Regions from separate parts of the Homo sapiens genome. Here all the other regions are linked to region 3. The links come from fine-mapping of genetic effects on gene expression. A gene starts in region 3. Each other region holds a variant in brackets. All regions are shown on one strand. Distances are between the middles of the regions.

Region 1 (8,183 bases), 310 kb after region 3:
AACGTGAACTTCAACACATATTTCAGGTTCTAACTGAAATGCTGCCTTTTTTCTAGAACACTTCCTACTACCCCACCTCACCACTACACACAGAATTACTTAGCCTGTACTTGGACTACCCACAACATGCCCTCCTGTGTTATGATTCTTTTTGGGTTTTATGGGTGTTATCTGTTGCATGTCTAGTTCACATTTCCCTTCTTCACACTAGGCTATGAGCTCGCCAAGTCAGGCGTGGGTCCCACTCATCTTCCTATCCCTAGTGTTTTGCTTGCAGCCTGCTCCTTCTGTGAGTTTGCTGAGGCCCAACCATGAGGAGCTGGCCAGAGCCACTGTGACTTTTTATTGGTTACATCATCCTTTTTGTTGGGACTTATGGCAGTTAATATATATAGGGCTGTGTGTGTTGGTTTTCCAGCCCTATTGAGAGTCTTGGCATAATGACATCTATGTAATCAGGGAGCCAGAGGAAGTGAGCTGATTTGATGAGACTTGGAAGAAAAATTATGCTTTGTAAACCCAATCAAGTCATGGCATAGCAACCACTGTGGATTAAAAATCTACTATGTAATATGCACATCCATTATGCATCAATAAAAAAGAAAATAATCTATGCGCTGAAAGCTGCATTCATCCTAGTGGGGTGTCATGACTTTCACATCAGAATTTTGGAATGTTTGCAAAGAACTCTGGAAGAAACATAAGCAGAAGCAAAATGCAATTGCTTTTATTTTGAGCCTCACGTCAAATACCTGCTATTCCCTCACAGGGTTAGGCAATCATACCAGCTCAAGAAGTTACTGAATCTTCTCTTCCCTCCTCCTTCATTTTCTTTCTTTATTCTTTCTGGCAACAGATGTCTGCAGCCTAAAATGCCAAAGTTTTATAGTAAATAAACATTTTCTTCATGCTCAGAGTTTTCTCATGGCAGGCAGAGGTGTTTGAAGCCAAGTATGACTCACAGTAAGTTTCTAAATAGTGATTTAATAAATACATAAAGTAATTTAACTTGGTTATAATTGAGAATGCAGAACTTAGGTGATGCTCCATGGTATCAAAGGCTTCCAGGCAGAGGGGGCTGCTGTCCACCGTTCAGGGCCTCTTGGTCACCATCTCCTCTAATCAGCATGCACAGCGGAAATCCTACTGATAACAGCCCATGTCCTGGGGAACACTGATGCTGCTCAGGTCAGTGTGTCTGGGGACTCAGAGTAATTGATCCAATAACAAGTTCCAGAGCCTCCAGAACAGAGTCGTGAGTATCTGCCATCTTTTTTTCACCTACAGAAGCACAGCAAATGTCTTCATTTATTCTCTCTGGCTGAATCTTTGTAAATTCCACTCATCTTTCTTCTTTGGACTTTTTGATTAAGAATCCTGTCAGCAGAGCAATTTGATGTCCAAGGGAAGATGTTGTTTGTGAGGCATTTTTCTTCTTCTTTTTCTTCTTTTTTTTTTTTTTTGTAGTTGAAGTAGAAGATCCTTTTATGCTTGAAAACCTTTCTATTACTTTTCCCCACCATGAATGTAAAGTTAACTTTACATTGTGACAGAATGTGTTAATGTTTCTTTCCTGTGCAACTTTGCCTGCATTGCTCTGGGACTGTGCACACAGCTTTGGATTCCGCAGGTGCAGAAACACAGCTGCAGCTGTGTGCTCTAGGTGCAGAGGGGGCAGGGATCCCAGGTGAGGGACAACTTGCCTTCCTTGCCAAAAGGTGACTGTCCTGCACGTGCTGATTGTAGGTAGGGACTGAAAAGTGACAGGGCCAAAAGCACTTTCAGAGAAACTACAGGATGAAGAGCAAATTCACAGCCTCTAAATCCCTTTTCCTAGCACTTGTTTCCTAGCCATGCCATGCCAAGCTAATTTAAATATATGAATATTAATGGATTTGAAAATTATTTAGCATGAACCTACTAAGTGCCTGGCACCATGCTAAGCATTATGGGTAGAATGCATAATTACATCCTGGAGAAGCTCGAGTCTAATGGAAGAGACAGATACATATACCCACAAATCAAGTAAGCACAGGGGGTATTATGGAAGTGAAAAGGAGGGTCTCCCTAATCTGGATCTGGCAGATGCTCCAGACTAAATCATAGCCATTGACTGCAGGGCTGCTGGGAGGACAAGGTCAATGTGCACATTCAGGGGGGTTGTCCTTTTGCTCTTCCTCAAGGTCTCAACCACTTGGCTTAGTAAACAGGCATTTAGTTTTCAGTCTGGTGAGATTGTCCTCTGAGGCTGATAAAATGAAAAGCTTCCAGAAGCTTCTTAAGAAAATATAATTTGAGTTAAGGCAAATACCTTAAATGATGCATCTGAACTTCAAGGAGGAGGCAGTGGTGTGCACAGGCTGCTGGAAGTCAAGGACTGTTTTTTATATTCACAAAACCCAGGGCAATGCCTGGTAAAGAAAAGAAACTCAGCACCTACTGCTGGCATAATTAGTTGGGAGTCGAGTGATCTGTGTTCTGGCTGAGTAGCATTGGATCCTTCACTTTTCCCTTATCTTTGTTTCCTTATCTAAGAAATGAGGAGTCATATTTGGAAGATCTCCAAGGACTCTTTCTCCTTTGATATTCTCTGGGTCGGCCAAAAAATCTAAAGCACCCCCACCACCCAAAAAATCCATCCTCTCAGAGAGAAAAGAGACCCAGGGAGGCTGAAGGTACCTAGGAGGGAAAGGGCAGTTCTCTGGAGGGTATGTATAACATCAGCTCATAATGTAAAGTGAAATCAGATAAGCTCAAAGCCCAATGTATTTTACAGTGGATAATTCATGGTTGATTGAACGGTTTGAAGATTAAATATTCAAGGTTAAGTATACATTTCCATTAAGGGGATCTATATCCCCGTGACACAGATTTTTTTTCAGTACCTCTTGTTTATGGAGTTATTTGGAACACTAAAACGCTAGGAAAAGAAGAGTGGTAATCATATTGCTTCTTGGATTTGGAAGAAAATTAAGATTAGAGGCTTGAGGATAATTTATGAAATTTGTCATAGTTGATTGACAGACGTCAATGATGGAAATGGGATATTGCATCCCTCTTCCATCTAAGTATTGAACAGGTGAAATGCTTCCTGGCAATAAGTGATTTACCTGGAAAAAAAACAGGACCACACACTGTTACTTATTTCTTAATCATATCCATAGTTCAATACAAAGTACCACTGTGTTCAAACTCAAAATGCTGGAGGCTCTGAATGGGGAGCCCAATGCTACTAAACCATGTTTGTTGTCTGAATATCTCACCTAAAATTTGGCCCAGAATTTTCACTTGAATCTTATGGTGACATTTGAGGAGCTCTGAAAAAGGAAGAAGTCATGTCTCAGAGGCTCTTGCTTGCTTGCTTGCTTTTCTTCTAGATTCAGGCATGAAAGGACATGAGTTTGAAGTTTTGTCACAAATTAGGTGATTAGTGTAGTGAGAAACAAGACAGGCGGGACAGATGAACAAAGTAGAAATATCACTAATTAAGAATTTTGCAGAGGTTGTACCAGAGAGTAATTGATATAAGAGATGTAGCCATAAAAATATTTTGTTCAGGGACAGAGAACATAATTTTTATAGAGAGGGAGTTGGTAGGTAAGGCAGGGAAGGGCTTGGGAAGAAATTGGAGTTCAGGATGTTAGTCATAGAGGAACAGGAAGCCGGAACCTTTACATGCATTGATTTGGAGCAGAATAAAGAAGATGGTCAAAAAAAGCTGGACCCATGAGTTGTTTCCATCATACTCCATAGCAAATGCCACTACACTTTACGGACTCTACATACCCTTCCAACTGCCTCCAGTATTGACCTCAGAATCCAGGGCAGGCTGAAGTGGAAATCAACTAGTTACAGCTTCCAAGAGTGTGAGGTCAGGGTTTTGAATGAGCCATGCAATACCTGTATACTTAGAAAAGTCATATCTCTAAATGCCCTTGTTTCAGAGGGTTTCAGAATTTTGAGCACTCTTAAATTCTTTAGGAAGGGCTGGAATAGTTAGCTGCTCAGTGTTAATGATATTAATAAGTGTGTCATCTGTCAGGTCCACCAGTGTGAAACTGTCATCTGTGCAGATTCCACCCCACATGATTCCCTGTTGCAGTTTGCAGGCTGTAGCTCATCCTATGCTGGAAAATAGAGAAAATGTGAGGTCTCCTGCATTTTTCTAAGGGTCTGCACAACCCTCAAGGTAAATCCATTTCCATTTCAAGTGAAATAATTACTTAGGATGAGGACAGTTGTAGTTTACAGATCAGTTCATCATTAGCTAAGCTATTGTGTATCTGATAATTCCAAAGTTATGGATTTATTTTGGGAAATGAAAATAAACAAAAATAAAAAAGAAATGAGACCAGAATGAGTTTCATAGGCTGCCAACCATAAAAGATACCATTTGAATTTGTGAATAATGAATAAACAGGCTTTCACTTGGATTCAATTTACTTGGTTGCTACCAACTTCCCTATGAAACATATAAGCATTAACTTACCTGCTGGTCACTTCTCAGGACACATTGAGAAATATGACAGGAATGCTAGATGGTGTCAGAAATCATTTTTAGTGTGAAAGGAGTCTACTTTATTACTTTTGAGTTTCTTACCCTTATAAAAGCCTTCAAGTCTAGAGAAATGCTGAAAATCTTCCTAAAGGAGAGCATTCAGATCAGCTAAATTAATACATGGGTAAGAAAGTTTCCATATCTGATTCTTAACACTATGATTCCACCCAGGGCTAGAAGAGAAACAGGGTGGGTTAGGAAGTCAGAGACTGGTTCTGGTGATGCCATTTAATAGCTATTAAATCTTAGAC[A/C]AGTCTTCAAGTGTTCTGTTATCACTGGCAACTTCATAAAAGCTACTTACAGAATTGTTTTGAAAACTAAATAAATGAATATAGAGGGATATCACTAAACCATAAAGTATGAGTATTTTTAGGTCTAAATTCATTTCTTTTACATATTTAGGCTGCCTATATTAAAATGGAAAGGTACAAACACATTTTCTGTAAATAAGGCATTATGACTGCATGTTTGTATCCCCTGAAGTTTATACCTTGAAATCCTCACCCCTAAGCTGATGGTATTAGGAGGAGCCTTTGGGAGTTGATTAGGTCATGAGAGAGAGTTGAGCCCTCATGAATGCAATTAGTGCCCTGATTAAAGAGGCCCCAGAGAGCTCTCTTGATATTTTTTTTCCCACCTGTAGGATACAATGAGAAGTCAACAGTCTGCAACCCAGCAGAGGGCCCTTACCAGAACCTGACCATGCTGGCACCCTGATCTTGGACTTCTAGTCTGCAGAACTCATAAGAATAAATTTCTGTGGTTTATAAGCCACCCAGTCTATAATACTTTGTTTTAACAGCCTGAATCGACTAAGACAGGAGTGACTGGGTCTATCAGGGTATTGCTTGGATGAAAAAGTTTTTTGGAAAGAGCATGCATTTCATAGGGGAATATAGGTTTCCTCATTTAAAAATTGCACCAAATGATTAAAATAGAAATCATTACCCACCATTTTTTTTCTCTTTCCTTGAATGTGAGGGAGAATAGGATGATGTAAACTATCCTAAGAGTGGCAGCCATTTCTCCAACACCATCTCTCAGCAGACAGGGTCTTTACCATAAAATTCCTCCTGGGTCAGGCCTTTGTGATTATCAGAATTCAGGGAGCATGACATGAACCTGAAAAGGAAAATCTACTGCCATTGGCAGAATTTGTACTCCAGTTTGTACTCTGGCCTATAAACTCAGACTCACAAACAAGTGATGTGGGTTGGCTGTGTCCCCACCCAAATCTCATCCTGAATTGTAGTTCCCATAATCCCCATGTGTGTTGGGAGAGATGAGGTGGGGATAAATGAATCATGGGGTAGTTTCCCCCATCGTGTTCTCGTGATAGTGAGTTCTCACAAGATCTGATGGTTTTATAAAACCTTATATGTTTTATAAGTATGCCATCACTGGGCACTCATTCTTCTCCTTGCTGCTGCCATATGAAGAAGGATGTGTTTGCTTTCCCTTCCACCATGATTGTAAGTTTCCTGAGGGCTCCCAGCCATGCTGATCTGTGAGACAATTAAACCTCTTTCCTTTATAAATTACCCAGTCTCAGGTATGTCTTTATTAGCAGCATGAGAATGGACTAATACAACAAGCGTATCTCTACATTTGAAAATTTGAGCAGCATTTGAAAATATTAAACTTTATTCTGCATAATTGTGTTCCTTTTATTTGGAAGAGAGACCATTTTGAAGATAATGAATGCTGTTGATCTTTAATTTTTCTCTCATGCTATTCTTCCCGGGACTACAGCCTACATTATTGACAATGTCTCATTAGTCCTCATAAAAAATGATGTCCCCTGTGATTGTCTTTTTCTGAAGTTTCTCCTGAAAGAAATGAGTTTGGAACCATCTGTGAGAAATTGAAGAATTCAAAAAATTTCTAAGAGTTGAATGAAAAGAATTTACATTTTTCAGTTGGAAACAAAAATCAGCAGGGTCTCTTGAGAAACACAATCTACTGTTCACCTTCCTCAGAGAGACGTGTGTTTGCAAAACCAAATCTGCCAACAGTACACTTCAAGGACTCTCTTGAAACTGAACCCAAGTGCATTTAAAATATAAACTACATTTGTTGGTTTCTGTTTTTTTGCATATCATTGGGGTCATAGAATGATGAGGAATCAGGGTTCTTATTTGTTAAATGAAATGTTATTAAATTCACATAGTAAAAGATGTCAAATAAATTTATAGGGGAGACAGAGTGAAAATGGAAATTGCAATCATTTAGGTATGAGCAATATTTTGTGTTTATTACCTGATCCTCCTCAAAGGAATTTAAGGAAATTATATAGTCTTAAAGATTGGAAGAAAACATTACTGAATCACACTTGAGAATGACCTGCAAGTGGGGCAAATCACCCCTGAAAGGTCGTTCTGCTTCAGCGTGAACATTGCACAATGACTGCATCTCCATCCCATTGGTAGGCAGCTTGCAGGTTAGAAGCTTCTCATATTGAGTCGAAATTTGTCTCATTTGTTTTATCCACTTGTCCTAAATTCCACCTCACCAATATATAATTTTTTATTGTAAATTACATCCTTTCAAGAAGTCGAAGATAAATCCTTTATCCTATACAAGTTTTCTTCAGAGGAATCTGAAAGGAAATTACATGTTGTTTTCCTTTATGCTTCAAATATGCTTAGTAGATGTTTGCAGTAGTCTGAAAGTCTTTCATTCTATGGATGACACCTCTGCCTTACTCTGTTATGATGAGAGTAGGCTGTTATAACTGGCTAAATGGCACATCCTCAGCCAACAGAGATATTGAGATGTCTGTCACAGATATAAAACAGAATTGTTCTTTTCTCCTGGATCTTTGATTTTCTAAGGCAATATATGTAATTTCAGCTCTGCTATCTCATCTTCCTAGTATCTGTTAGTGGAATGGCCACGGATGTTGAAACCTGAGAAGCCAGTTTCAGATTTTCTCTGAAGACTGAAGTCCAGTCAATTTTGGGCTTTACATTCCCTTCTTAGTTGATAGCAATTGAAAGTGCCACTGAAGCAGCCAATGATACAATTGATCAGCTTGGACTGATCAATAACTGAGTACCTAGGGCCTGATTTGTGTGTTAGCCTTCTAGTTTCTGAGAAAAAAATAAAACTTTCCCCTAAATAAAGACATCAGTTGGGTAGCTGAGATCAGAAACTCAAGGTCAGTGTGTGACTCAATGGCAGAGCAGTGGCCTCAGACTTCCCCTGCCTCGCTCCACTTTTGAAGTTGGTTGACTGCCCTGTGACTGTACAGAGGTCCTAATGGTTTACCCATTGCACTGCTTTGTTTGATGTGTACAGTATTCTTATTGCAATTCCCCTGTCTTGATGAATCAGCTCTATCTAGGCAGTGGGCAAGAAGAACACATTGGGCAGTTACATTTTCAACTCAGAAAGATCACTTTGCTGTTTGTGAATTCCTCCTCTCTTATTTGTATGTACATTACATATATATGTATATATACAATATATTGCTTTTCTATTTTTATATACATAAATTATTTACAGATGTTGGAAAAGAGATAGCAGAAGTATGATCACAGAGAAAAGGGAAAGGATACTTTTACTTCTACTCTGTAATATTTTCCCAGAACTCTTTCTTATCATTTTCTGTGCTTACTCATCA
Region 2 (8,183 bases), 240 kb after region 3:
CAGCCACATGGAACTGTGAGTCCATTAAACCTCTTTTTCTTTATAAATTATCCAGTCTTGGGTATGTCTTTATCAGCAGTGTGAAAAGTGGCTAATACAGTGAATTGGTACCAGCAGTGGGGTGCTGCTGTAAAGATAGCTGAAAATGTGGAAGTGACTTTGGAACTGGATAACAGGCATAGTTTGGAACAGTTTGGAGGGCTCAGAAGAAGACAGGAAGATGTGGCAAAGTTTGGAACTTCCTAGAGACTTGTTGAATGGCTTTGACCAAAATGCTGATAGTGATATGGACAATATGGTCCAGGCTGAGGTGGTCTCACATGGAGATGAGGAACTTATTGGGAACTAGAGTAAAGGTCACTCTTGCGATGCAAAGAGACTGGCAGCATTTTGCTTCTGCCCTAGAAATCTGTGGAACTTTGAACTTGAGAGAGATGATTTAGGGTATCTGCGGGAAGAAATTTCTAAGCAGCATATCGTTCAAGAAGAAGCAGAGCATAAAAGTTTGGAAAATTTGCAGCATGACCATGCAATAGAAAAGAAAACCCCATTTTCTGAGAAGAAATTCAAGCTGGCTACAGAAATTTGCATAAGTAATAAGGAGCCAAATGTTAATCACCAAGGCAATGGGGAAAATGTCCCCAGGGCTTGTCAGAAACCTTCTTGGCAGCCCCTCCCATTACAGGTCTGGAGGCCTAGGAGCAAGCATTGGTTTTATGGGCCAGGCCCAGGGTCCCCCTGCTGTGTGCAGCTTAGGGACTTCGTACCCTGCATCCCAGCCACTCCAGCCATGGCTAAAAGGGGCCAAGGTACAGCTTGGGCTGTTGCTTTAGAGGGTGTAAACCCCAAGTCTTGGCAACTTCCATGTGGTATTGAGCCTGTGGGTGCATGGAAATCAAGAATTGAGGTTTGGGAACCTCTGCCTAGATTTCAGAGGATGTATGCAAATACCTGGATGTCCAGGCAGAATTTTGCTGCAGGGGCAGGGCCCTCATGGAGAACCTCTGCTAGGGCAGTGTGGAAGGGAAATGTGGGGTTGGAGCCCTATACAGAGTCCCTACTGGGTCACTGCCTAATGGAGCTGTGAGAAGAGGGCCACTGTCCTCCAGACCCCAGAATGGTAGATCCACCGACAGCTTGCACTGTGCACCTGGAAAACCTGCAGATACTCAATGCCAGCTGTGAGAGCAGCCAGGAGGGGGGCTGCACCCTGCAAAGCCCAAGGCCATGGGAGCCTACTTCTTGCATCAGCGTGCTCTGGATGTGAGACATAGAGTCAAAAGAGATCATTTTGGAACTTTAAGTTTTAATGACTGCCCTATTGGATCTCAAACTTGCATGGCTCCTTTGTTTTGGCCATTTTCCTATCTGGAGCGGATTTATTTGCCCAATGCCTGTACCTGTATTGTATCTGGGAAGTAACTAACTTGCTTTTGATTTTACAGGTTCATCGATGGAAAGGAGTTGCCTTGTCTAAGATGAGACTTTGGACTGTGGACTTTTGAGTTAATGCTGAAACGAGTTAAGACTTTGGGGGACTGTTGGGAAGGCATGATTGGTTTTGAAACGTGAGGACATAAAATTTGGGAGGGACCAGGGGCAGAATGATGTGGTTTGGCTGTGTCCCCACCCAAATCTCATCTTGAATTGTAGCTCCCATAATTCCCCCATGGTGTTGGAGGGAGCTGGTGGGAGATAATTGAATCATGGGGGTGGTTTCCCCCATACTATTCTCATGGTAGTGAATAAGTCTTGAGATCTGATGGTTTGATAAGGGGTTTCCCCTTTCACTTGGCTCTGATGTTCTCTCTTGCCTGCCACTAGGTAAGACATGCCTTTCACCTTCTGCTTTGATTGCGAGGCCTCCCAAGCCATGTGGAACTGAGTCCATTAGACCTTTTTTTCTTTATAAATTACCCAGTCTTGGTAATGTCTTTATCAGCAGTGTGAAAATGGACTAATATAGTTCCAAAGAAGGGGAAGACTTTATAACTGTTGAAACCTGATATAAATATTGTATAATATAAAAGCTACATAAGTATTACATAATAAAATTACCTAAAGGTACATAAAATGAGCTATATATATTATCAAACATCATTCATGGTTTTATTTGCTTTATAATAATGTAAAAACCTCACCTCCTTCATCAAGGGAGCAATATAAAAGACAAAATGAGTATCAGCTTGGGGCGGAAACTATTGCCATCATATCCAGATTATTTGTTTTTCCCTTCAACTAATTTCTACAAGTAGTATCTCTGGCAAGTCAGAGTAGTATCTCTGCCTCAATGACTCACCCACACCCGGATCCACACCGAGAGAGAGAAATTTGGAGAGAGCCACCTCCCTCTACCACCTCCTTTCAAATTGTTCTTTCCAAAACCCTAATCAGGCTCCAGACCCTTCAGAAAACCTTTCAGAAAATACTTTTCTTTTGCTAGAAATCCTTCTGCATGGTACAGGTTGAGTTCCCTCTTCCAAAATGCTTGGGACCAGAGTGTTTTGGATTTCAGATTTTTTTTTTTTTGATTTTGGAATATTTGCATTATACCAGTTCAGCATCCTTAATCTGAAAATCCAAAATCTGAGATGCTCCAATGAGCATTTTCTTTGAGCATCATGTCTGTGCTCAAAAAGTTTCAGAGTTTGGAACATTCTGGATTTCAGACTTTTGGATTAGGGATGCTTAACCCCTACCACATGATTGAATGTGCTTTTTTGATTAATTATCTCCTGTTTTGTTTTTGTTTTTGCCTTAGTATTGTCTTAGATACAGCGTGAGCTCCTGAAAGGCAGAAACCTTGTCATGTTTTTATACTCTCCTCCTTGGGCCCATGGAGTTTACAGAGCATCTAGGAAGTGCTCAAGGCACCCTCTGTGCTTGATTTGTTGGCCTTGTCTGTTTCCCTAATGGATGGCTGATGCTCAGACTCTGCATAGGAAGCCTCATGGTGCAGTAAGGTTTGTCCTCTGCTCAGACCAGGGAGGTGGTTGAGATCACGGGCCCTGGAGATGACTGCCTGGGTTCAGCTCTCTGTTCCACTGCTTACAAACAAACCATGGTAGCTTGGTCTAATGCCTAATGTCCTGTGTAGCATTTTGTCGTCTGTAAATTGGATGTGATAACAGTACCCACTAATTGAGTGGGAGTGATGATTTAATGAGACAATACATGTAACATGCTTTGAAGAATGTCTGGAGCGAAGTAAACACAACGTACATCTGCTACTGTTCACATTTGCTCCATTTTTCTGGAATCCCTGATCTACTTTCTTCCACAGGTCAAATGGCCTGTAAGATTTTCCATTTGCAGTGTTTAGGATTTCGTTGCTGTCTGGTCTTCAATTCAAGCTGCTCATGGCTCAGTAATGCTCCTGGCTAGAGGCAGATCACTGTTGGGATTCAGGCATTCCTTTGGATATCCCTGACAATAGTTGTGATAATTACAACAGCTGTTACAGTTTAATAAGTGGTTTCATAGCCTTAATTCCCCTGATCTTCTTTCAGAGCCAGGGCTGCCCCATATGGTTGTGCAGGTTGTACACTGCTCAGCTGCAGCAGGCACCATTTACTTTGTAGTCTTTGTGAAAGGCGCCCCCTAGAGCTCTGCAATGCAGTGCTTTCCACTGCCACATGATGGTGAACCTGCACACAGCTGCCGTATGAGGTTTGTGTTATTATTCTCATTTTTTGTTTCACTTTTTGTCTTTTTATTAGAGAGTTTAGTCAATTTACATTAAATGTTATCATCAATAAGAAAGAACTTACATCTGCCATTTTTTTATTTTTTTGGTTGTTTTGTGGTTTTCTCTTTCTTTTTTTCTCCCTGTATTAGTCTGTTCTCATGCTGCTAATAAAGACATACCCAAGACTGGGCAATTCACAAAGAAAAGGAGGTTTAATAGACTCACAGTTTCACATGGCTGGGGAAGCCTCACAATCATGGTGAAAGGCAGAGGAGGAGCAAAGGCATGTCTTATATGGGGGCAGGCAAGAGAGCTTGTGCAGGAGAACTGCACCCTATAGAACCATCAGATCTTGGGAGACTTATTCACTATCATGAGCATAGCACAGGAAAAACCTGCCCCCATGATTGAACTATCTTTACCTTGTCCCTCCCCTGACAGGTTGGGATTATGGGAATTACAATTCAAGATGAGATTTGGGTAGAGACACAGCCAAACCGTATCATTCCATCCCTGCCCCTGCCAAATCTCATGTCCTCACAATTCAAAATACAACCATGTCCAGGCAGAAGTTTGCTGCAGGGGAGGGGTCTCATGTAGAAACTCTGCTCGGGCAGTGCAGAAGGGAAATATGGGGTTGGAGCCCCCACACAGAGTCCCTACT[T/G]TGGCACTGCCCAGTGGAGCTGTGAGAAGAGGGCCACCAACCTCCAGACCCTATATTAAAAACAAAACTGTGGCTTAAGGGATTTTTAAAAATATAAAATACAAAGAAAAAGATTTTACCATAAGTCCACGAATGCTTCTAATAGTCTGTGTATTTTGTCAGTTACCAGGAAATTACCCTGGAGAGAAGCAAACAATCAATTTCAAACTGTTTGCCTTTATTGCATCTTCTTCTCCACCCTCGCATTGAGAAATGGAAAATCCAATAACTAATAAAGAGCACTGTAAAGTCCTTTCCCTTTGTCGAAAGGATTTAATCATTGGAGTGAACTCCACAAATATTTGTGCTGTAGATGAGAGAGTGAGTCAGCGAATGTGGTGTTTCCTTGCTCCAAGTCTCCTTGGAGTTTTCTACAGGGATTTTGGGTAACAGGGTAGCTCTGAACTGGGTAGATCTGTCTGTCAAGAGGAACGCTCTAGAAAGCTCAGGACTCTCCTGCACAGGGCTTAGCCCACTGTGCTCAGGCCCCTGGGGACTCAGCGGATGCATGACTGTTGAATTTGGAGCCTGTCTCTGGTCCCAGGGTTCTATCTGTGTTTGCCAGCATTCACTGGGATGTAGACTGAGGCTCAGACAATCTACCAGCTACCCATTTTCCATGGGAAAGCTTATCAATGTACATAGATAGAGGCTATTTTCAGAACTCATGGCTTTGATTGTTCCCATTCTCCCCTTGCAGTTTGCCTTTGAGTGGGGTCCGCCAGGGTCTCGGAAATAGATAACTGTTTCCTATTTTTCCCTGGTATCTGGCCTGCATCACAGGTCCTCCCCATCCAGCCGCTACATTACCTTTCCTAAAACACAGCGGGGAGTGTTTGACCTTTGTCAAACACTAATTACTTGAAAGAAGAAGTTTCTTAGCAGAATCTCAAAGCTCTTGATAATCCATAATCTGATCCCAGCTTCCTTCACACCAACCTCATCTCTGCCACGTGGTCTCCACAAACTTCCGCTGCACCAGACCATGTGTAAGTCTTAGCCTTCCTCCCTCTGTCCTGCACGGGCTGTGTCTTCTGCTGTGGTGCCCTGCCTTCTCTGCTTTTTCGCCTTCAGTAGCTTGTTCTCTTACGCTTAATATGGTCAGTACCAATTTCTCACACTTTTTTATGTGGAATCCATTCCAATTGAGAAAACATCTCTCTTTATAAATATTTCACCCTGCTGCACACCAGAGACAGTCAGCTTCCATGCATCTTTTAATCAGACTTCTCTTAGATGCTACTAAGGGTCCGTTTCTGTGTTTGAGTCTCTCTTCTCCAGTACATTACTAGGTTGTTGAGGGCAAGAGACATTATTTATACAACTCTGACTCCTTCATGGGAGTCAGGCCAGGCCTGGTGTATGACTTACCAAATTAAATTGAATTTCTAAACCATCTAAACATATTTCTTCCATGATGACAGGGGAGGTTAATTATGTGTGTTTATAAGTTGGCTGTTGCCAGGAGACACGGAGGCGATCACTTGTCAGCATTGCTCTTTGGAAATGAAACTGAAGGCAGTTGGAAGCTGGTGAACCGCTCTCTGGCAATTAGACTGGCAGGCTACCAAATGTAGCAATGGCAGGCAGGAGGCATCATCAGCTCTTACCCTGTGTCTCTGCCTGGCTTTGTTCCCAAGAGAATGTCCAACCAGAGCTGACACTGGGAAGCTCATAGATTCAGAATGCTATCACCAATTCAGGACAAAGATGGCAGTGGGGAGAGGAGCCATATATCCTACCAGCTCCTGGGATGGGTTAGTGCTGCAGCTTCGGTGGAATTCATGTGACCCCAGAGGGATAGATAGGGACAAGACAGACATTATCTTCTATGGAAGGCTCCAGGTGGGCCACACACTTGGTCCTCACTGAGGTAATCATTCCATCCAGCAATGCAGCTCTCTGGCAGTTGCTTTGTAGCCTTTCCCTTGAAAAAGGCTGGGTAAGGACTGACTTGGTCTCAAGTCACTGTCTTAGATGCCTTGCATCCCCTTCCTCCTTTAGTTGTTGGAATCCTCACTCTCTTTTGCTTTCAGGAAAATGCTCTCCAGTCCCTCCATTACAAACAGAAGTTTTGAAAGAACAACAACAACAAAAAAGCTCTCCCAGGGGAGTTTACATTTTGACTGAGAGTAAACTAAACAAATAGTGCATAAGTGGTTGAATTCAGAGCAGCAAGCATCAGAAAAAGGAAATCTGGGAGAGGACTGCATGGCATTTATGTTACCATTGAAATCACACCATAGATTGGCTTCTTCCTTAATCTATATGTACAGAGGCATCTGTCTACCACACTTATTGACATATTGAAAAGATTCAATAGATGTTTGCTGAACTCAGCTGTTAAATTTTAGGAAAATAAACCTGACCATGTTTTAAGATCCTCTACTGGTACTGTAGCATTATGAAGGTTAAAAAGAACGTAGGAATAAATGCTTTCTGGCTCAACTGCTAGACCAACTGACAAGACAGACAGAGAGGAAGCAATAATACTAGCAGCAGCAGCAGTAGTAGTAATAATAATCATAACAGAAGAAGAACATATAGGGAAAAAGCTTCTTGACATTGGCCTTGGCAATGATTTCTCGGATATGAAACAGGCAACAAAAGCAAAAATAGATGAGTGGGATTATATGAAACTAAAAAGCTTCTGCAAAGCAAAGGAAATAATCAATGAAATGAAAAGACAACCTAAAAATGCGAGAAAATATTTGTAAACCACATCTGATAAGGGATTAACATTCAAACCATAAGGAACTCATATAACTCAATAGCAAAAAATCAAATAATCAGATTAAAAAATTGATAAAGGAACTAGTAGACATTTCTCTAAAGAAGACATACAAATGGCCGACAGATATATGAAAATGTACTCAACATCACTAATTATCAATGAAATGCAAATGAAAACCACAATAAGATATCACCTCACACCTGTTAGATTGCTTATTCTCAAAAAGATGAAAGGCAAATGTTGGTGAGGATATGGATAAAAAGGGAACCCTGTACGCTGTTGGTAGGAATGTAAATTGGTGCAGCCACTATGGAAAATGGGTATGGAGGTTTCTCAAAACAAAAACTAAAACTAAAACAAACATACCAAAAAAAAAAAGCCCCCAAAACAACCTAACATTAAACCTACCCTGTGAACCAGCAGTCTCTCTCACTTCTGGGTATATACTCAAAGGAATTAGGATCTTGAAGAGATGTCTGTACTCCTACGTTCATTGTAACATCACATCACCCAAGATGTGGAAGCAACCTGAATGTTTATTGATGGATGAATGGTTAAAGAAAATGTGGTATATGCATAGAATGGAATATTATTTGGGGCATAAAAAGAAAAAAAAATCCTGTCATTTTCAACAACATGGATGAACCTGGAGGGCATTGTGTTAAGTGAAATATGCCAAACACGGAAGAACAAATACTGTATGATCTCACTTATGTGTGGAATTAAAAATAGTCAAACTTATAAAAGAAGAGAATAGAATGGTGGTTGTCAGGGGTCGGGGGGAGGCGGAAACTGGAGTTACTAGTCAAAGGCTACTAAGATTTAGTTACACAAGATGAATATAGATCATAGAGACCCACTGCACAGAATAATGCCTATAATAGACAAAACTGTATTGCATACTTAAAATGTACTAAGAAAGATCTTATATTAACTGTTCTTATTACTACTACTACTAATAAATAAAGATGGTGGAGAAGACTTTTGGAGGTGATGGATATGTTTATGGCATGAATTTTGGTGATGGTTTCACACATGTGTGCTTATTTCCAAATGCA
Region 3 (8,183 bases):
GTATAATGGGACCCAGTAGAGCAAGCAACTAAATTTGCTTTGCGAGTCAGAGAAAGCCTCAGAGAATGGGTGACATATACTGGATCCTGGAGATTAAGCAGGCATTTTCCGGTGGAGAAGGAAACACTATAGGAACGAGGCACCAGAAAGGCAAGACTCAGATGGCATGCAGTGAGCATAGAGGAGAGATGGGCCACTTCTGTCGGGCTGGAATGTGAGGAAAGTGCAGAGGAGAGGGGAGGGGAGGTGGTGATGAATGAGTAAGGCAGAGAGAAAGGTGTGAAGAGCTTGAAATGTGGTAAAAAATCAAGTTGTGACCAGAGTATGAGCAATCTGGAAGGCCATCCCTGGAAATATTTTCATGGGCTAACTTCTCAGACAGAGCCTTTCCTATACTAGAGTGTTATGAGGACCTGCCAGTGTGATGGAGTAAACACCTTCCTTTCCGTGCCTAGGGTCAGGCACAGGTGTTCTGTGGCACTCACCTTGGGCAATACTCAAGGGCCTTCAGAGGGTGATTCTGAGTACCTGAGGACAGCATTCCTTTGTGCCTGGAGACATAGCCTGTCACAGGGTTTTTTCTTTCTTTAATAATTTATAAAGTGTCTCCTTTTATCTATAGAAACATAAAGCTTTTAGACCTGGCAAGGGCCTTAAAGATGATATAGTCCCAACCCAAATGTAGGGCCCAAGAGGAAATATCACTGAGGTAATCAGGGACAGAGCTGAATCAGAATTCAAGTCTTTGTACTTGAAGATCATAAAGATTTAAGGAATTTTTCTTTTTCTTTTCTTTTTCTTTTTTTTTTAGACAGGGTCTCTCTCTGTCACCCAGGCTGGAGGGCAATGGCACCATCTCTGCTCACTGCAACCTCCACATCCCAGGTTCAAATAATCCTCCTGCCTCAGCCTCCCAACTAGCTGGGACTACAGGCATGCACCACCATGCCTGGATAATTTTTGTATTTGTTATATAGGCAGGGTTTTGCCATATTGCCAAGGCTGGTCTTGAACTCCTGGACTCAAGCAATCTACCCGCCTTGGCCTTCCAAAGTGCTAGGATTACAGATGTGAGCCACTGCACCCGGCCTTAAGAAACTTTTGATATAAAAATAATACCACAGGGCAGTTAGAGTAAGCATACAATAATTTTGTGAAAAGAGCATGATCATTGTAGCAATAATCTGAAATAAAAACATTCTAGCTGATTGAGAACTAAATTTAATTTAATGTAAATTTAGTTCTGAGCTTCCTGGCAGCCAAGCAAAGACAGCGATATGATGGTTTACATGTTTTATTTTTACCTGGCAAAAGGTAGCGTAGAAATAAGGGATTTAGGTTTTGACTAGGATCAGATGAAACTGGGCAGCCTTCAGTAATTCACTTCACAAACATGCAGATCCAACAGAAGTTCCTGGAAATTCAGTCTTCAAGGAGCTTATTGTCTAGTGGAAGACAAACAGTTAAAATCCCATATGGTAGATTCTATGAAAGTGGGAGGCAAAGGCTGCTGAGGGAGTGTGGAAAGGAAACACACAACACACAACCCAGGATGAGAGAGGCGGCTTCCCAGAGGGTCGTGATTATGATGTGATTATCCACTGAATCTCATCCTAAGGGAGAAGGGGTCTGTTGGGCAAAGCAAAGCTTGGTGATGGGGAACTGTGTTCTTAGCTGAGGAGGCACTGCTGTGCATTCAGAGAGTCAAGAAAAAGCATGGTGGGTCTGGGGAGTTGCAGGTGTTTCATGTGCTCAGACTAACTGGAGTGATATTCAGGCAGCTGGGTAGAAAGTGGCAAGTGAGAGGCACACACCAAATAAACGCTGCTCATTATGACTATACCCCTCACTCCCAACCTTCCTGCCAGAGATGAGCACATCTTCATTTTCACCTGCAGACCTGTTCCAATTTAAGAAGCTAATGAGCACTTCCCTTTCCTTCAGGACTAAGGCAAGTACTAATCTAGCTGATTTCTGTCATTTGAACTTTAGTGAGAATAAAAAGTCGGGGACAGGTTTGGCTCTGGGGAGGGAAGGGAAGACATGGATGTGTGATAGGTGGGTAAGAGAGGGAGACCTCCAAACGAGGCCTGGAAGACAGACTGAAATGCATCCCACATTAGTGGCATGTGTCTCCATCCACTCCAGGAGTCCTCTGAAACCACAGAGGAGTGAGCATTATTGTCAACGATGATTAAATGATTGACCCCTCACAGATTAAATGCATGGTTTATCTAGATGTTTCTCTATAGGCACAGTTAATTAAGAGGGAACGGGATGTCATATCGGGAGGCATAAAGACTGGGCAGGAAGTGGGTGTGTGGGGAAAAGGAGGCAGTTAGTTCACAGCATGCCCCCGGTAATGGAGACTGGGGTTGGGGAAGGGGCTACATACCGTGTGTGTGAATTTACCACTTTGCCTAGCTCAACCTTGGTCAACATTCAAGAGTAAACTTTTGGGGAGCAGACCTGCCTCAGGGGTCATCCGATGTGGTCCTTTTTATTATTTCATTGGCTTCACATGATTACCCTGGGAGAGAGGAAATTTCCTTACAGATGACAAAATCAGGGCTGAAAGACGAAGTGGCTCCCTGCAGGGCTCAGCAGGGTAAGAAGTCCTGTCTGTCTCTGTCTCAGATCTGTGGCCCTTCTCTGTGCCCACTCCTACATGCCCACCGTGGAGGCCCACCCCTTCTGTCCTCAGCTCCTGCAGATGCACAGGGGCCCTTACTGGCTCCCACTGTGTGTGCCTTCCCGACTGCTCACATGTTCCGCCCAGACCCCAGGAGAAAGACCTCACTGCCAACTCTTCTGCACTGCAGGTGCCTTCTGCAGTGCTTAGAGATTCTGAACATATTTCCTTCTCAAGTAAACCATGCTGGACTTTTTGGATAAACTTAGTGATTTTAAAATGATTAAATAGGTAACTGCTGGGAGAGATCTGGAAGCATTCTTCTAAGGTGTTGATAAAATGTAAATATATTTTTAGAACAATCTTAGAGCTTATGCTAAAGATGAACTATGTAAGAAAGTTACCTTCTTCAGCCACTTGTAAATAGCAGTGTGGACCAATGCTTTGGATCCTCTTCCACAGGAGAGGAGACAAGATTGGAGGAACCAAAGAACCATGGAATTAGGGACAAATGGCTCAGAACAGTGCTCTGCAGACACATGCATCTGTACTTTGCTTCCCAGAAGCCAAATGAAACTGTTGGAGCTTGGTGGGCTCCAGGCCTCAGGGGGAAGACCACCCTAGGCTTTATCTTTTCCTCTGCCCTTCCTGCCTGCTGTTAGCCTCTCCTCTGGACCAAAACTCCCTTTAAGGGGAAAACCTCCTCTTTGAAGCCCACAAGATACGGTGAGGATTACTGCCTTTTTCTGATTTCCAACGTGGGTTTTTCATTAAGCAAAGAACAATTAGAAAACCCACACATAACATAGGGTATTCAGTAAGTTCAGGAAAGTGTTTTCCACCATCTCTTTGCCCCCATTCCCTCCCCAGCGCTTGGCTCAAGGTCTGGAGCTTGAATCTGCATCGTCTTCCTAGGTGCTTGCCTGAGGTGAGTGGTCAGCGGGTGCTGGCTTGGGGGCAGCTGGCAGGGCGTATGCTGCGGGTAGGAACCCAGGGAACACTGGGCGCCTTAGCTTGGAGCAGCTGGCTCCGAGGAATTGTTCCACGTCTGCACAACTTAAAAATCTGCAGTTTGGGGGCGGGAGGGGGAGCGCGGGGGTGGGTCCCGAAGCGTCCCATTTCTCCTCCTGGCTGTTAACTGAGCGCTCTCGCTCAGTGCAGCGAGGCCAGCGATGCCTTCTGGACCACACGCTGTCCTCGCCGAGGTCCTGGTTTGTTCCTCAACGTCGGCTGAAGGCATCGTCCCCTGACTTCCTCTTCCATTCGTCCTTCCGAAAGGGGACCCGACTGGTTCCTCTTCTACATATGAGGCGCATCTGCTTGGTGCAAATGTCCAAGCACCTCTTCTGACTCGGTGAGTGGAGGAATAAGACAAAGCATCTTGTTCTGCACTGTGCCTGAGTCTTCAGGCAGCGGGACCGATGGCAAACATTGGCAGGAACTGGAGCTATATGTACTCTCCTTCGCACTTTGTTTTAAAACAAGTTTGGGCCTCGCGATTTCCTGAGGAAATCCAGGCAAATTAGCAAAGTGTCGCTTGGGCCGCGACTTTAGAAAGGCGGTTGCCCCAGCCGCCGGGGCCGCGGGGGAGGTCATCTTTTTCCCGCAGGGCCACGGCGCTTCCGGCCCAGGAGGGCGCGCAGGTGGGAGGCGCGGGGCGCGCTCCTGGTCCCACCCGGACAGCGCCTGCCGCTCCGGGGTGACTCTGCACTTGGGCCTGGGCGGGGGCGCGCGGCCGGCAGGGCAGCATCTAGGTCTATGGGTCTGTCCGCCTGTCTGGCGGTCGGAGCCCCGCAGTCCTCAGCCGCCCGCGCCCTCGGCCCGGGGCGCCCGGCTGCGGGCCCGAAGCGAGGGGCTGGCGGAGCTGCGACCAATGGGGCGGCGGCCGAGCGGCGGGCCCCGCCCCGTCCCGTCCGGCCCCGCCCCGCCCGCAGCTCCCGGGAGCCTCGCTCTAGCGGGGCGGGACCGACGGACAGACCGGCCGACGCGGGCCACCCCGCTCTCCTCGCCGCCGCGGCGGCAGGCGCGGGGCCGCGCCGCGAGGCCTGATCCCTGCAGCGCGGGCAGGCGGCGTCGCAGAGCGGAGCTAGCTGGATGCGTCCGGACTCCTGCAGGTACCTGGCTGGCGTCCCCACCTCCCTGCGCGCTCCGGAGACTTCTCCGGGCGACCCTGCAACTTTACCGCGCCTTCCCCCACCTTTTGCTGCCCCAGTCTCCTGTGGTCCAGGTCGCGGGTGCACGACCCCGAGGGTCTACGGCCGCAGAGCACTTTCCGTCCTTCTGGGCGTCTGGCCCGCGGCGCCCGCATCCTCTGGTCCCCAGAGCCCGCCGTCGCTGGAGCCCTAAGGCTCCGCCTGTTGCGTGAACTGCGGGCTGTTGAAGCGGTGGCTGGGTTGATTTGAAAGCCTCGGGGAAGGTATTTAGGATCAGCTTTCGGGGAGTGGGGTGGGCTATGGTCAGGGGGAGGACCACCTGGAGGCGGGAGAATCGATGAGCCGAAGAAAGGCGGCACCTCGCGTAGGGGCATCCCCGGGGCGTTTCCTTGGCCGGGAAGCCGTTCCTTCCCTTCCTCGAGAGGAGGCGCTTTCCTGGCGCTTGTAAATGCTTCCCGGGCCGTCTGCTCCGCCTTCTTTGTCATTCCTCCCCTCCCCTTTGCCCTGCAGCTGTGCTAGGCGCCCCGCGACAGTTGCAGGGAAGAGCGAACCCAGGGCCCTTGCTCTCGTGCAGCGCTGCGCCCTGGGTGGGGACGGCGTGAGGCTTGCAGCGCAGGTGTGGAGTCACTTGCGGACTCTGCGTTTGGATCAGTGGCAGTGGTGGGGAAGGGTCACCCCGGGGTCAGGAACTCCTCTTTTTTTTTTCGCGCCTTTCTGGGTGGCTGCCCGACCTCCTGAGGCACCTTGGCTAGCAAGCGAGCCAGTCTTGCCGGCAGGGGCCGCGGCGAGCCTGGCTGGGCGCCTTTCGCATTGCAGGGCTTGTCCTGCACCCCCAACCCCGCTCTGTCCCTTCTCGTTCATTTGGAGAAAGGAGCACCTTTTGCATTCTTGATGTCTCCCCCCGGTTTTGTCTGGGGAGACCGAGCCGAAAGCTTCACTCGGGTGGCCCGCAGCAGGGGCAGAGGACAGCAAAGAGCTACCTCCACCTGCCAAAATGACCCAGGGGCCCTGGTTTGGTGCCAAGGCGTGAAGTGGGGGGAGGGGCGGTAGGTGTTCCTTACGTTCCTGCCGGAGAGTAGCTTTGTGGTTGGCCCGGAGCCTTCGTTCGGGTTTTTTGTCTTTCACCCTACCCTCTGAAAATACTGGAGCAGATGAGTACAAACAGTTCAGAAGCCTTTCCTGTTTCTTTCCCTGTATTTACTCAAGCGATTTGCGTAACCATTCACTTGGAACTGTGTAAGTCACTCCTAGTTGCCCCCCTTCTTAGACTATTTGCAAATACCTGCCCAGGTAAACAGGAAGCACGCACCTATCTCTTAGCTGAAGGCATATGCCCTCGTGCTTTGTCTTCCCTGCATATCTGGAGCCGAAGAGGTGGCTTTGATTCTCTAGCTGAACTTGGTGTAATGTGCAGGCTCCACTTCTTACCTGGGTGGTGACCTTCTTGAGGAGATTGACTCGTTCAGTATGCATTTCCAACCAGCCCGCCATGGGCCAGGCCCCAGGATGCACTCGGGGACAGACAGCAAATGGATGATATAATTTCTGCACCCAGTCTAGTCTGTTCTTTCTTTCTCACCAGCTTCCCTTCTTCTCTTGTTCTAATATTATGTTTGTCGTTTCTGAACTAGGAATTGTCAATATTGGGATCCGGAGAAGGTCATATGAAGGTGCCATAGAACTCTGAATCCAAAGCATGTTGTGAATATACTAAGGAGACTTGCGGGATCAGTATTAATTGAATCTTTTGTCTGACCCATAATTGCCTGAATAGAGCCATTGATGAATGCAGCTACGCTAAGGTTTTGCTGGTCAAGTGTATGAGGGCAAATTGGGAGGTCAGAAGCAGTCTTTGTTCTGTTCTGAAATATTATAATATTAAAAATCCAAAGCTCTGGAGCTTGAGTTTGCCAGCAAAGCACCAACTGAGTATCATCATCTTCTTTTAAGAAGGAAGGGGGAGAGTGGGAACTGCAGCTCCCTCCTGTCTTCAGTGGGTTTTGCCCTTCACTGTAATTCTTCACAGACGTGCATCCCTCTGTTCTACCACCCATCTCAATCTGCCCTGTGTCTGGCATTTGCCATTGGAATGTGTGTCAGCTTTGAGAGAGTAGGCACCACAGGGTTTTCCTCCTCCTTTTCCTTCTATTTTTTAATAGATAACATTTATTAGCTGCATACTATATATCAGATACTCTGCTAGGCACTTTTCCAGGCATTATCTCATTTAATTCCCATAACAACTGCATGAGGATGTGATGCTTGCTTTCTTCACTGCAGTATTGCTGTGGGAGCCAGCAGTAGATGGAACCCCCCAGGTGCATGTTGAGTCAGATGGGAGGCCAGTGGGAAATGGTGGGCCTGAGGTCTCACTAGGAGGAAGGACGACTCTGCAGGGTATGTTGAAGCAGAGAAGGTGGGTGTGTTTATTGACTCTGCTTATCAGGTGTCAGGAAAGTGCATCTTCCAGAGTGCCACCTGTGTGAAATACCCACAAAGAAACATCATAGAGAAGAGAATAGGATGTGGGGACCCAGTTTCCAGCTGTGATATCTATTTCTTTATGGCTCCTTGACTTGACATGTCATTTTGCTAATCTGGGTCTTGGTCTGTTTAGCTGCACTGACCTAGATCTCTAATATTTGTTGTTACGCTGTACTAGGCACTAAAAGCTAAAAGCTTTTACATGTATGAACTCACTTCATCCTGATGACAATCTTAGGATGGTAGGTTCTATTATCACCGTATTTTACAGGAGGAAAGAGAGACAAACTGAGTAACTTGTACAAGGTCACCCAGCCCGGAAAAGGTGAAGCTAGGATTCTATCCCTTGCAGTCTGACTGCAGAGCCACTGTGAGATTCAGTTTTCCTCATTTATTCCTACAGTTCCAACACTGTTCCCTGTGCTTAGTGGGATCTCGGACTACATTTGTTGAACAGTGACAGAGGGGGCTTACAGTTACCAAGTGACTTTTGGGTCCCATGTCTCAGCCTTAAAAGGAATCTCAAAGACTGCGTTAGCAAAATATTATTTTTGCCTTTGACAAAATGGTCTGCTTTTCGGTGAAATTCTGCCCAGCTGGTTAGGAAAAAAGGAAGATAAACCATAAAGATCATGGGCCAGGGAAACATTATGGTGAGTTTCAGAAAATGTGTTTATCAATATAAGAAATTCAGAAAAACCACAGAACACTTTGTACTCCGACGCAAATTTGTCAAGTAAATCAACCAGTGACCAATTCACAAGTGCTTATTGTATGGGTGCTAAGTGCCCAGTACTACAGGCAATGAAGGTAGGCAGAATCTATGACATGGTCTCTGAGCTTGAACTTATAGTGGATCTGGAGACTCCAGATCAGTGAGACAAGATAGAACAATACAAGATGCTAAATGTTTA

Alleles and levels. Positions count from the first base shown, and alleles are read on the strand shown. Sizes are in standard deviations (SD) of each study's normalised expression. Not every link is listed here.
For the expression in gastroesophageal junction of the gene that starts at base 4,607 in region 3, G is the high allele of the variant in region 2 and T is the other (small effect, 0.25 SD a copy in GTEx).

What was found. PIP is the estimated chance that this variant, and not a neighbour inherited with it, causes the effect.
Region 1: its variant is fine-mapped to the expression of KCNS3 in subcutaneous fat (TwinsUK, PIP 0.92).
Region 2: its variant is fine-mapped to the expression of KCNS3 in gastroesophageal junction (GTEx, PIP 0.96).

The regions. Positions count from the first base shown.
Region 1 is chr2:18,186,551-18,194,733 of GRCh38, forward strand. No RefSeq gene overlaps it. Among named protein-coding and RNA genes, the nearest start is that of KCNS3, 310 kb to the left of the region's middle. The variant A/C (reference allele first, on the strand shown) is at 4,810.
Region 2 is chr2:18,114,230-18,122,412 of GRCh38, forward strand. No RefSeq gene overlaps it. Among named protein-coding and RNA genes, the nearest start is that of KCNS3, 240 kb to the left of the region's middle. The variant T/G (reference allele first, on the strand shown) is at 4,353.
Region 3 is chr2:17,874,061-17,882,243 of GRCh38, forward strand. It overlaps KCNS3 (potassium voltage-gated channel modifier subfamily S member 3), which reads left to right and starts at 4,607. Exons shown (of 3, transcript NM_002252.5): 1 at 4,607-4,746. It overlaps LOC124907737 (a long non-coding RNA gene), which reads right to left and starts at 2,502. Exons shown (of 2, transcript XR_007086226.1): 1 at 1,305-2,502. RefSeq lists silencers at 4,218-4,377, 4,388-4,587, 4,678-4,727.